Linked DNA regions of Homo sapiens. The protein of the gene in region 4 purifies or fractionates together with the protein of the main gene of each other region. This does not show direct contact. Each region holds a gene or a part of one and is shown on either strand. Other genes may lie near its edges.

Region 1 (3,500 bases), on a different chromosome or scaffold from region 4:
AAAATTAGCCAGGCATGGTGGTGCACGCCTGTAATCCCAGCTACTCGGGAGGCTGAAGCAGGAGAATCGCTTGAACCCAGGAGGTGGATGTTGTAGTGAGCCGAGATCGAGCCACTACACTCCAGCGTGGGTGACAAAGTGAGAATTAGTCTCAAAAAAAAAAAAAAAAAGAATTAACATTAAAATTAACATTACATGGGAATAAACCTTCCCTTGGGTAAAAAACCCTGAAGACAAATAAAATTATACACCTGCCTAGGCACACGCCACCACACACACTTTTTGGAACTGTACACAAGAACATCTCTGGGAGCAAACGTTAAGTTGCAACTGCAAAGCGGAACTGTCAGGGGCTTTTTGCAAGTCGTGAGTTGGCTTGTTTTCAGTTTATCTATTACTGTACTTTTTCACGTTCTTTATACCAGTGAATATATTACTGCTTTAAGAAAAAATGTAAACTCCCACACCTTCCCCCCAAAAGTAAAAAAGCTACCAGTTCAAGTGTGTTCAAATCAGAATTGGAGGGTCTGTGTGAAATAAATTCAAAGAAAAAAAGCAGGGAGGGAGGGAAGGAAGGGAAAAGCAAAGGAGGAAAGGAGGAAGGAGGGACTGAAAAGCTAACAGAACCTTGAGAAGATCCTTGTAGAGCTCAGGATACAGCATGGCAACTTCCGATTTGACATCTTTGTCCAGGACCAGAGAAAACACAGGAAACATGGTGTAAATTGTGGAGTACCTGGGAGAGAAAACCGCCATAGGTAAGACCTGGCTGACGCGATAGGAGCTATGTGCTGTGCCAGCCTCCGGCACCCAAGTCCCAACCATGCCTCTAACAAATATTTACTGCTTGTCTATTATGCTCCGGGGCTGGCTGTAAGCACCAGAAACCCATGAGCAAAAATGGACAAAAATGTCTGCCCTGAAGAGCTTTCATCCCGGTCAGCGAGTCAATAAACAAATAAATTAGGTAAACTCTATGTGTGTTAGAGAAGTGCTAAAGAGAAAAATATAATGGGGTAGAGGAAATAAGACGTGTGTGTGTGTGTGTGTGTGTGTGTGTGTGTAGGGGGTGATGGTACAATTTTAGAGGCTGAGGAACAGAACATTTGAGTGAACACCCACAAAAGGTGAGGGCCAGCCAAGCCAATCCCAGGAGGAAGAGCATTCCAGGGAGAAGGAACCACCAGTGCAAAGGCACTGAGGCGGGAGTGGCTGTCATGTCTGAAGAACAGCCATAAGGCCAGTGGGGCTGGGGCTGAGGGCGACGGAAGAGGAAATGAGGACCCACGGGAAAGATGGGACCAGACCACGGAAGGTCGCACGGCGCACAGCTCAGGGAACCCCTGACTATATTCTGTAATGTTCTTGTACTCTTCCAGAACCCGACGAAAGACAGCCCGCTTTTCCAGTTAGAAGCAGGCAGAATTCTAGTGCCTCCTCTCAGGCTGAACTCATCAGCCAACACAGTAGGATGGAAAGCGGACTCTGTGAGACTCTCCAGAGCGCAGCTGACCTTCCCGCACCCGCCGTCTCCTCATAACCAGAAGTGGCCTCAGCTGCATGTGTCTGTATCTAGGGCACTCGGTAACCAAACTCCACCTACCTGGGTGATTCAGAGACTGAGCACATTCTCTGAAAAGGTCAGAAGGATCATCCTGAAGTTCCAGGTCAGTAATGGGGGTGGGTTTGCAGGCTGCAAAGGCCCAAGTGACACCATCTCTGTCACTGTGGCACAGCAGCCAAGCTCTGTTACTTGCACATCCCCGAGGCAGTGGACTCTGGCCCTCCCTGGAGCTCCAAGGATGGGACTTCTACTGGGCTCAGTTCAGGCCAGGAGGGCATTTTTCAGATCCCCCACCCCTTTTTATTAAGACCCCAGTGAAATCACCAAGTCTGCAAACCTTCCACCTTGCTCTCCTCAATCAACTGATAACTCTGGAGTATTTTTTCAAGACCAGGTACAAATGGCAAAGTGCAACACACCACACACATCTCCAACTCCACTTCCTCCATCTGGTTAAGGGCTTAACAGCTCAAAACCTTGTTAATTGAAGGAGGTTCTAAACCATGGTGCTGGGCCTGCATTCGCTGGGGCTGGGAATCCAATGTGGCTTGGGAACCCAAGAATTTTTCCACCACGTTTCTTCTCTCTGTTGCAGCATTTGAAGAAGGTTTTGTAAACAATTAATTCCTTGGCAGGATTTCCTTACCCAATGATGAGGAATCCTTGATAGAGAGGGACGGAGGCAAAGTAAAACACGGAGGAAAAGACAGCCTGTGCCAAGGAGAGAGGAGGATGTCACCAAAAGTCATGACAAAATCCCTTACATTTACAGAATAAAAATAACACCTGATACTTACATAACACCCGCGCCGGCACTGCTGTAAGGTACTTTACATGGATTTGCTCATTTCATTCTCACAACATCAACAACAACCCTATGAAGTAGGTACGATTCTCATCATCCTCATTATGCAAAGCAGAAAGTGAGGCATAGAGAGGGTACGTGGCTTGCCCAAGCCCACACAGTTCCTAAGCAGCAAATCTAGGAATCATTCCCGGGTAGGGTGATGTATCACAGCTCCAGGGTCTACTCAGCCTGTTGTGAATATTTATTAAGTTCCAGGACCCAGGAATGCTTTGTACATGAGCACAGCTGATCTCCAGAGCAGCCCACAGGATCAAGCCCTACTATCACCCACACTTTACAGAAGGGGAGGCTGAGCAGGTAAACAGCCCTATGGGACTCAAGCCCAGCTGTGGCCACAGCTCTGTGGCCACACTTCTAAACAGCTCGGAATCCTCACCTCTGTAGGCATGCACGCTGCTAACCAAAGTGCCGTAGGTATGGAAACACATACAGAAAAAGAGCCTCTGAAGTGTCTACGGGGGCTGGGATGGCAGAAAAGGCTTCACTTCTTATATTACATGTTTCGGTATTTGGGGAAATTTTTGAAAAGAGCATGGTGACAGATTATTTTTGCAATTAGACAAAAGCAATGAAGATATTTACAAACCCTCGCGGAAATGTCTGCTTCCTGCTTTGGAAAATATTAGCTGCTGGTAATGATGAATAGGCTGGGGAGATCCAATCAGGCTTGAAGCTCTGTTAGCTCCATCTCTGGACCTCTATGGGCTAACAGAGGAAACACGGTCTCCAAGCTGATATCCATTCATATAAAGCTGAAGGAAGGCCAGAGACAAATGCTGCCTGAAAGCTTTTAGAAAGCAGAAGAAAGCAAGGCAGAGATACCCTAGTCATTAGAAATAGCATCAGACCAGGGCTAGCTCCCCAGAGCACCTTCAATGGACACAGAGAGAAAGCATGTAAGAAACACGTGCTTTCTCGGCACAGAGCTCAGAGCGCAGGTGATCCTGAGCGCCATGGCCACAGGAAGCCCCAGTTCGCCCTGGCTGCGCCGGAAAAGCCACTTTTCCAGTGACTTTTCACCCAGGCTGTGCCGCTGCTTAGGAAGGATGGTTGTAAAAATGTCAAGAA
Region 2 (2,541 bases), on a different chromosome or scaffold from region 4:
TGCTTAAGAGAAAGCAACTTTAGGTCGGGTGCAGTGGCTCACGCCTGTAATCCCAGCACTTTGGGAGGCTGAGGCAGGTGAATCACCTGAGGTCAGGAGTTCAAAACCAGCCTGGCCAACATGGTGAAACCCCGTCTCTACTAAAAATACAAAAAAATTAGCTGGGTGCGGTGGTGGGTGCATGTTAATCCCAGCTACTTGGGAGGCTGAGGCAGGAGAATCGCTTGAATCCGGGGGGGCGGAGGTTGCAGTGAGCCAAGATTGTGCCATTGAACTCCAGCCTGAGCAACAAGCACAAGACTCTTCCCCAAAAAAAAAAAAAAAAAAAGACAAAGCAACTTTAATCTTCTGGAGGAAAAACTGGGTTGATACAAAGTACCAAAAGTACGTCATGTGACAATCTGTATCTGTGTTTGAACTGTGGCTCACCCCTAGCTCTGTGTGGCTCCAAGAAGACATCTGATTTCAGAACCAGAGGTAAGAAGCAAGCGGTGACACTCTTTTGTTCTCAACTTGTTTAATATGGAAAAAGGTCATCAAAACGGTAGGCAGGGTTGCTGTTTTTAATACATTCTTGGGATGTTGGCCATTCAGACAGCATTATTTCAAATATAGATGAGTTATCCAACTTTTTTTGACTCAAAGATAGTTTGCTTAGATTTTTTTTGAGATGGAGTCTTGCTCTGTCACCAGGCTGGAGTGTAGTGGCGTGATCTCAGCTCACCGCAACCTCCGCCTCCCAGGTTCAAGCAATTCTCCTACCTCAGCCTCCCAAGTAGCTGGGACTACAGGCATGCACCACCACACCCAGCTAATTTTTGTATTTTTAGTAGAGACAGGGTTTCACCATGTTGGCCAGGATGGTCTCGATCTCTTGACCTCGTGATCAGCCCGCCTTGGCCTCCCAAAGTGCTGGGATTACAGGCGTGAGCCACTGCGCCCGGACTAGATTTTAACAAGACCTAATTCCATGGGATTATGGTGGCTAATTTATCATGAGAATTAAATATAAAAATGTGGAGGCTCTGAGCTGCCGACAGAGGTAAGGACTACCGTGACGGGAATAGTCGATGGGCTAACAGGCAGCCAATCACATTACCATTCCTTTGTGACAAAGGGTTAATACTTTAACATAAATTAATTATACATTCATTATGGTGTTTTAAAACAGTCAAGCCTAAATAAATTCTTCATACCATCAAAAAGATATACATACTAAAAACCTGCTTCAGCACAAAGTTTTTCATTTGACAGCTCTTGGCCTGGGCCATACACATTAACAGGGATCTTCTGCTTCTTCAAGCTTAATATAGTACGTCTGGCAATCATTTTATATAAAAATAAGATTAAATTTAAAACCTCACCAAACTAGGATCCTGGCGCTGTAGAAAATCAGGGAGACACCAGAATAGCTAAAACCCATAGTTCTCAAGCAAGCTTACATCCAGTCACCTGGAGGCCTCGTGAAAACAGCTCGCTGCACCCTGCCGCACACCATTTTGATTCAGGAGGCCAGGTGGGGCCTGCGCGTCTGCATTCTAACAAACAAGTTGCTGCTGCTGGGCCAGGAGCCCCACCTTGAGAACCACTGGGGCTAAGACAACTGTAAAAACTTAGCACCATCTCCATCACTGTTCAGTGGTAGACAGCATAAGCTTTCTGTCATCCGCATTTATTCTGCAGGGGACAATGTGGAGGTGGCCCTCATGATACCACTGCTCAGTACTTTATTGTCAAAAGAGAAGTTCTGGGCTTAGCTAAAAGAGCGCTTCTCTGTCAGCATGCAGTATAGTTTACAACTAAAGCCATATACAATATATTTGAAATGTTTTATTTAATGCTGAAAATTTTACCCTAAGGGACAGTAGGATGTGTAAAAAGAAAGGAAAAGGCACAGTAATTAAGTCATCCTTAGAAATGATGAGGTTTTCTTTCTTTCAAATAACTTCACTTTAATGTAACTTCAAGCCCAAACATTCTGGGAGGTAAACAGTCTCTTGGTACCTACGGGGCCCGAGAGGCAAGTCAACCTCCTTGAAGAACGGAGCGCTGGAGTCTGAGCACGCCAAAGACTCTCTTTAAAGCAGGGTCTTGGACCAGAGAACCCTGAGCAGCTGGAAGACAAAAGACTTCCTCAAGTTTCAGGAGGAAGGTACCGTGGACATCCTTGAAAGAGGACCCCAGAGAAAAACTTGTAGGCAGGGCTGGGAAGAAGCCATTTCTGAGTCTGATTCAAGACAGTGACAGAGAGCAGCTCGAGGCTCAGGGCACCACCCGGGCTCCCTCGTGCTCCACCAGAACCACCGCCAGCCAACTGGTCAGACGGCTCTTGCCTGGCTAGTCTGAGGCCTCAGCTGGCGCGGGCCTGGCGACACTCTTACAGATGCCTACTAGCCAGGCGGGCATGCTCATATTTTCAGTGGAAAGGTACTTGCAACTGAAGAAAATCCTGAGGAAGCTGACGCCAGAATTCAGAACTCTTAGCCTTGAACTTTGTACAATGGGTTCTTCCAAGTGAAATGCACTCACGTCTTAACAGCA
Region 3 (2,216 bases), on a different chromosome or scaffold from region 4:
TGATGGGCCAGTTTACTGTAGAGGCAGGATGACTTAATATAATAGCTTTATATTTCCTGCAGTCTCAAGATATGGGACATCTCTTCAAGGGAGACTTGATTAAGAGAGAGCAGGCACTTGGGGAGCTGGTACCAGAACCTCGGTCTTCAGTCTGCCTGAAATAACAAATAGATTCTCTCTCTGGGTCTCTCACATAACACATTACATAAACAGGTAACACATCTTTTAACTCTCCTATTACACTTTGAATAGTTGTTCTAGAAAATAGGTTTGTTAGAAAATATTCAGATCCTCATGAATGATAAGCTGATGGGAATATCAAAATGGATTTTTGAGGCCTTTTTATGACTTTGAATTAACAAATGTATAGGATGCCACAGTCAGAAAACATTAGTGATATACTTTGACAAATGATACTGAGGCCCCATATGAGAAACCTTGCTGAAGACATTGCTATATTTTGCTTCTAACTTTTTATGGAGCATATAAGCAAATACATTAAAGGTTTAGTAGTTTTTAAAAGTAACAAACATATGTCTCAATTTTTCTCTCTTGGTTTTATAACTTCCACAAAATTATTTTAATGTGAACTATTGTTTTTGGCTGTCTTCACTGTATCTTGAATGGAGTTGTCATCTGTGTACCCCTCTGCAGGTGAGCAAGAATAAACTGGATTTGTACAGGGGGTACCAATACTAATAATCACAGTTATTCCATTCACTGGAATGGAACTTTAAAGGGAGTTCTTTTCTTTTATTGTTAAAGAGATAGGCCCAGGTGTGTGTGTGTGTGTGTGTGTGTGTGTGTGTGTGTGTGTGTGTGTCAATAAAAGGCTCTGCTGAGATTCTTGGTGGGTGGTTTGCAAGGCTGTGTGTGTGTGTGTGTGTGTGTGTGTGTGTGTGTTGTGTGTCAATAAAAGGCTCTGCTGAGATTCTTGGTGGGTGGTTTGCAAGGCTGGGTGTAGAAGACTGACATGAGCAGGGATTGATTTGCTGCCTCCCAAATACATGTGGAGAAACAGCCCAAGGAGGCTGGCATTTTGCTATATCCACCTTTCTGCTTCTTCCTTTTTAAGTGGTAAAGGCACTACTAAAACCTCGGGGGTGGGGGGTTCTCCAAGTTGGAGGGTGAGAGCAATAATATTCATTAACTGGTTAATGCTTAATGTGGGTGGGCTTGAGCCTAACAAAACTGTGTGTTCTCCTAAATTTGGGGTTAGGAAAAGATCATTTTATCCTTGTCTGATTTTAAACCAGTCAAAAATATGTGTAGGACAAGTAAGTTGCTTGTTCATATGAAGTCCTAAGAAATCATTAAGTATTGATTTGAATTTATTTACTCTGTCCCTTCTGAGTCTCTTAACTAAAAAACTTATATGCTGCTAAACACCATTTTAAAAGATTTCTGGTAGTCTTGGATTTGTTTTTCTCTTAAGACTGAAAAATGATCCAGTTATCTAATTTATGCTAGTATTTGATTGTCTAAATGCCACTTCTCTGGTAGTGATATCTGACAATTCTGTTTTTGAAATGATTCTTTAATTTGCTCAGGTATAATGAAAGGGGTTTTTTTGTTTGTTTGTTTTTAAACAGACTGTAGGCCTTGATTGCTTTGAAAGTTTCTAACTACCCCACCCACCACTCCCTGATCAGCCTGTCTGTATTACATGAGTTGTCCAACACTTATTAAAGATTTGGCAGTAATTACTCTGTCCCCCACCTCCAGGTTTTTGCCCCCCATCAAAAAACTAAATGAATATTAAAGTTCATGCTGACAGTCATTGTTCACCTTCCCAGCTGCACTCTGTTCCTCCAGGATGACTGTGTGGATCGAGGAGGCAGGGGGGAGCGTGTTGCCATAGCCACCTATGAGAAACACTGGACCTGGCATTAGCTGCTGACAGCAATGAACTTATCACCCATATTTAATGCTGGTGTGAATGAGGGGGCCCTAAGTAAAACACTCTTGTCTTGGTGGCTGAAAAGAAAGTTCCCTGAGCTTCTCCTGTATGAGGGAAAGCACGCACAGCTGAGCCTGGGCTGTACATGCTCTCAGTGTTCTCTTCATGGTGTTCTTCCCATCTTGGAGAAGGAAATAGGGGATCATAGTGTGACACCAAAATGGAACAAGGATTCCCAAGGTATTCCTTTGAAGAGTGACAGTATTTTCATTTATTTCCTTTGTGTGAAAAAATGTGTAAAAGTGATCAATAATAG
Region 4 (4,590 bases):
AGAGATCAAATACCAGACATGCTTAATGGACGCGAGGCTTTGACAAGGAAGTTAGTGTCAAGGAGAAAGTCGGAAGGTGGGTCAGGGCCAGAAGAAAATGAGGAAGATCTTTCTGATGATCTGAAATTCGTTTGCTTATGCGTCTCATGCAGCATGCCTTGAAGCGACAGCCACCAAGCGTTCAGGCCGAGGACTGAGGGTTTCCTCCCACTCCTGCTTTCTTTTTTAATGAGCTGGTTTTGAAGTTGTGTAGTTTTTAAGCAGTTGAAGTATCTTGGCTCCAAACTTTTAACTGAGTGTTCATGGGATTGGGCAGCAATTGTTTCTTGGTTATATTACTATTTGTCAGTTCAGCAAATACTTAACCAGCACTTACCGTGTAAAGTAGTAAAGGCTGGTGAACAGTCTGTGGGTGCCAGCACCTTTATTATACATTGAGTCTTGTTTTGCTTCCCCATGTGGGGGTGGTTGTCACCATCTTCATGGAGAGGACCCTGAGGCTCAGAGTAGGTAAACTTTGCACAGGGTCTGGCCCCAGTGAGTAGCAGTGCTAGGGCTTGACCCAAGTCTCCTGGACCGAGCACAGAACTTTTCACCACTGAGCCCTGCCACCTCTTGCATGCACCTTTACAATCTGCAGCCTGGCATCGCATTCGACTTTTAGCACTTGCGATGTCCTTCCTCAGTGCACAGTGTTCTTGAGACAAAAGTAGCGGGTAATGATGCTTACTTGCAATTAGTGCGACAGGGTTCCCTCCAGCCTGATCCGTCATACTGTAAACAAGCACTGAAGGCTGGGCACAGTAGCTCATTCCCATAATCCTAACATTTTGGAAAGCTGAGGCAGGAGGATCGCTTAAGGCCAGGAGGTGAGACTGGTCTAGGCAGCATAATAAGAACCGATTTTTAAAAAATTGGCCAGTTGTGGTGGCCCGCACCTATAGTCTCACCTGCTCAGGAGGCTGAGGCAGGAGGATCGCTTAAACCCAGGAGTTTGAGAGTGCAGTGAGCTATGATTGTGTCACTGCACTGCAGCCGGGATGGCAGAGTGAGACCCTGTCTGAGAGGCTCCTGCTCTCCAGCTTTGAGGAATAAACATTCAGGGCTCCACCTAGGTTTTTTTGGTTGGTTTGGGTTTTGTTTGTTTGCTGGCACTGTCTTTGGTTTTGTTATCAGAGTAATTAATGCTGGTCTCATAAAATGAGTTGGGAAGTATTTCCTTCTCTGATAGTGTTTGGAAGAGATTATGTAGATTTGTTGATCTTTCCAAAAAATTGCTTTTGTTTTCATGGATTTTTTTTTCTTTTCTCTTTCGTTGATTTCTGCTTTGTCTTTATTATTTCCTTCCTTCTCCTTGCTTTGAATTTATTTTGCTTTTTCTAGAAAAGCTTAGAATTCGAGACCTTACTTCTTTTCTCCTTTTTTTTTTTTTTTGAGACGTCTCACTCTGTCGCCAGGTTGGAGGGCAGTGGCGTGATATCGGCTCACTGCAACCTCCGCCTCCCGCGTTCAAGCAATTCTCCTGCCTCCACCTCCTCAATAGCTGGGATTACAGGCGTGTGCCACCGCGCTTGGCTAATTTTTGTATTTTTAGTAGAGACGAGGTTTCACCATGTTGGCCAGGATGGTCTCAATCTCTTGACCTCATGATCTGCCCACCTCGGCCTCCCAGAGTGCTGGGATTACAGGCCTGAGCTACCGCGCCTGGCCTCTTTTCTCTTTTTTTGAGACTGGGTCTCGCTCTGTCGCCCAGGCTGTAGTAGTGCAGTAGTGCGATCTCTGCTCACTGCAGCCTCCACCTCCCAGGCTCAAGGGATTCTCCTGCCTCAGCCTCCTGAAGTAGCTGGGACCACAGGCGCCCACCACCGTGCCTGGCTAATTTTTGTATTTTTTGTTTCGTCATGTTGCCCAGGCTGGTCTCGAATTCCTGAGCTCAGGTGAATCTGCCTGCCTTGGCTTCCCGAAGTGCTGGGATTATAGACGTGAGCCACTGCACCTGGCCTCTTCTTTTCTAATAATTTAATGCTATAAATTTCCCTTTATGTACTACTTTAGCTGCACCCAGCAAATTTTAATGTGTGAGTTTTCGTTTTCATTCAGATCAAAAAGTTTTTTGTAAGACTTCCTCTTGGGAGCATAGATTAACAAGTATAGTTTAATATATTAGTTATAATTAATAATTACTAATAATTGGTTAATATAGTTTAATAAGTATATTGTTTAATTTCCAAGAGTTGGAGATTTTATTGTATCTTTTTGTTATTAAATTTTAGTCTAATTCCATTATGGGCAGAGAACATATTTAATATGGTTTCAATGCTTTTAAATTTGTTAAGGTTTATCTTAGAGCCAGGATATGGTCTTTCTTGGTGAATTATTCCATGTATACCTGAAAGAGTGTGTATTTTGGTTTTGGTGGGTGGATCGTTCTATAAATGTCAGATTTAATTTGTTGATGGTATTAGTTCTTCTCTGTCATTGCCGATTTTTCTGCATACTTGTTCTATTACTCAGAGAGAGGTTGTTGAAGTCTCCAGCTGTGATTTTTAGATTTGTCTATTTCTCTTTTCATTTCTGTTTATTTTCGCTTCCTGTATTTTGCAGCTCTGTTGATGCATATACATTGAGGATGATGATGTCTTCTTGCTGAATTGACCTTTTTATCCTTTCGTAATGTCCTTCTGTATTCCTTTGCCTTATATTCATAGAGCTGCTCCAGCTTTCTTTCTTTTTTCGGAGACAGTCTCACTTTGTCACCCAGGCTGGAGTGCAGTGGTATGATTTTGGCTCACTGCAGCCTTGAGCTCCTGGGCTCAAGCAGTCCTCCTGCCTCAGCCCCACAAGTAACTGGGACTACGGGTGCACACCACCACACACAGCTAATTTTTGTATTTTTTGTAGAGATGGGGTTTCACCATGTTGGCCAGGCTGGTCTCGAACTCCTGAGCTCAAGCAATCCGCCCGCCTCGGTCTTCGAAAGTGTTGGGATTACAGGCGTGAGCCACCGCTCCTGGCCACGTTGTTTTGGTTAATGTTTGCGTGGTGTATCTTTTGCATCCTTTTACTTTTAATCTACCTGTATCATTATATTTGACATGAGTTTCTTGCAGATCTTATAGTTAGATGGGGTTTTTAAAACTCTGTTCTGAAAAATCTGCCTTTTAATGGTATGTTTAGATCATTTACCTTTAATAAAATTATTGATATTTTGGATTTACGTATACCATTTTATTTGTTCTATTTTTATTTCTATTCTTCCTCTTTTTAATAAATTGAACATTTTTAGTATTACATTTTTCTTTTTCTTTTTTTTTACACTGTTCTCTTTGCGTAGTTTTTGTAGTGGTTGTTCTGGGGGTTACAATGTATGTATTAAACTTCTCACAATCTACTTAGAATCTGTATTTGCATATTTCAGATGGAATGTGGAAACCCTACTGTCACTTAGGCCTTTTGCCCTCCGTCCCCTTCTTGACATGCTCTTCTATGTTGCATACATGTACACTGATAACTCCTCAGACAGTGCAACACATTTGACTTTCTGTCATCAAACACATTCTAAGAAACTCAAGAGGAAATGAATAGTATTATACAGTTGGCCCTGGAGCAACATGGGTTTGAACTGTGTGAGTGTACTTATAACATGGCTTCTTTTCAACCCAAAACAGATCGAAAGCACAGTATTCTCGGGATGTAGAACCTGTGTATAGATACGGAGGGCTGACTTTTTGTATATGTGGGTTCCGCAAGGCTAACCACAGGACTTAGTATGCACAGGTGTGGTTATGCACGGGTGGTCTTGTCACTGATCTCTGTTCAGATCGTTTCTGGAGTTGTCCCTTGGTTTCCAAGAAGTGGTGGTTCCATAATTTGGATACCATAATTAGAGGCTGCCCAAGTGCTTTATATGAAATGGCATCATATTTGCATATAACCTACACACATCCTCCTGCAGACTTTCAGTCATCTCTAGATTACTTATAATGCCTCATACACTGTAAATGCTATGAAAATAGTTGTTATACTGTATTATTTATTTTGTTGTTGTTGTTGTTGTTGTTATACTGTTATTTCTTATTTGTGGTTGTTTCTGAATGTTTTCTGTCCTGGTTGGTTGACTCTGAGGATGTGGAACTCTCTGATCTGGAGGGCCTCCTGTCCTTCTGTTCTTTTTCATTATTGATGTTCTAGGTTTCCTTCTGGAACCCTTTCCCTTCTAATTAAAGAAATTTAACTAGCTTTTCTTTTCTCTCTTTTTTTTAAAAACCCATTTTTTTGCAGGATTCCTTTTATTTTTAAATAAATTCTCTTAGTTTTTTTTTCCATCTAAGACTATTTCACACTCATTCCTGAAGCCTGTTTTCTCTGAGTGTAGAATTCTGTGTTGATAATTGTTTTCTTTCAGCATTTTAAAAATGTATCCCTTCCTTCCACCCTCCACGGTCTCTCATGAGAAATTTGCAGTCACTCAGATCATTCTTCTCCTAGAAGTACAAGTGGAGCGTCCCTTATCTGAAATGCTTAGGACCAGAAGCATTTTAAATTTCTGATTTTTTCAGATTTTGGAATATTTGCATTATACTCACCAGT

The links.
Region 1: the proteins of LMTK2 (region 4) and ATP9A purify together in Homo sapiens (affinity purification with mass spectrometry; one large-scale study listed by BioGRID and IntAct). This does not show direct contact.
Region 2: the proteins of LMTK2 (region 4) and TADA2B purify together in Homo sapiens (affinity purification with mass spectrometry; one large-scale study listed by BioGRID and IntAct). This does not show direct contact.
Region 3: the proteins of LMTK2 (region 4) and INVS purify together in Homo sapiens (affinity purification with mass spectrometry; one large-scale study listed by BioGRID and IntAct). This does not show direct contact.

The regions. Positions count from the first base shown.
Region 1 is NC_000020.11:51,607,891-51,611,390, forward strand, and holds part of ATP9A (probable phospholipid-transporting ATPase IIA), read right to left. Parts: intron 2,276-3,500; coding exon 2,211-2,275; intron 737-2,210; coding exon 628-736; intron 1-627. UniProt on the Homo sapiens protein: Plays a role in regulating membrane trafficking of cargo proteins, namely endosome to plasma membrane recycling, probably acting through RAB5 and RAB11 activation. Also involved in endosome to trans-Golgi network retrograde transport.
Region 2 is NC_000004.12:7,055,912-7,058,452, reverse strand, and holds the end of TADA2B (transcriptional adapter 2-beta), read right to left. Parts: 3' UTR 501-2,541; downstream 1-500. UniProt on the Homo sapiens protein: Coactivates PAX5-dependent transcription together with either SMARCA4 or GCN5L2.
Region 3 is NC_000009.12:100,298,243-100,300,458, reverse strand, and holds part of INVS (inversin), read right to left. Parts: intron 1-2,216. UniProt on the Homo sapiens protein: Required for normal renal development and establishment of left-right axis. Probably acts as a molecular switch between different Wnt signaling pathways.
Region 4 is NC_000007.14:98,196,779-98,201,368, forward strand, and holds part of LMTK2 (serine/threonine-protein kinase LMTK2 precursor), read left to right. Parts: intron 1-4,590. UniProt on the Homo sapiens protein: Phosphorylates PPP1C, phosphorylase b and CFTR.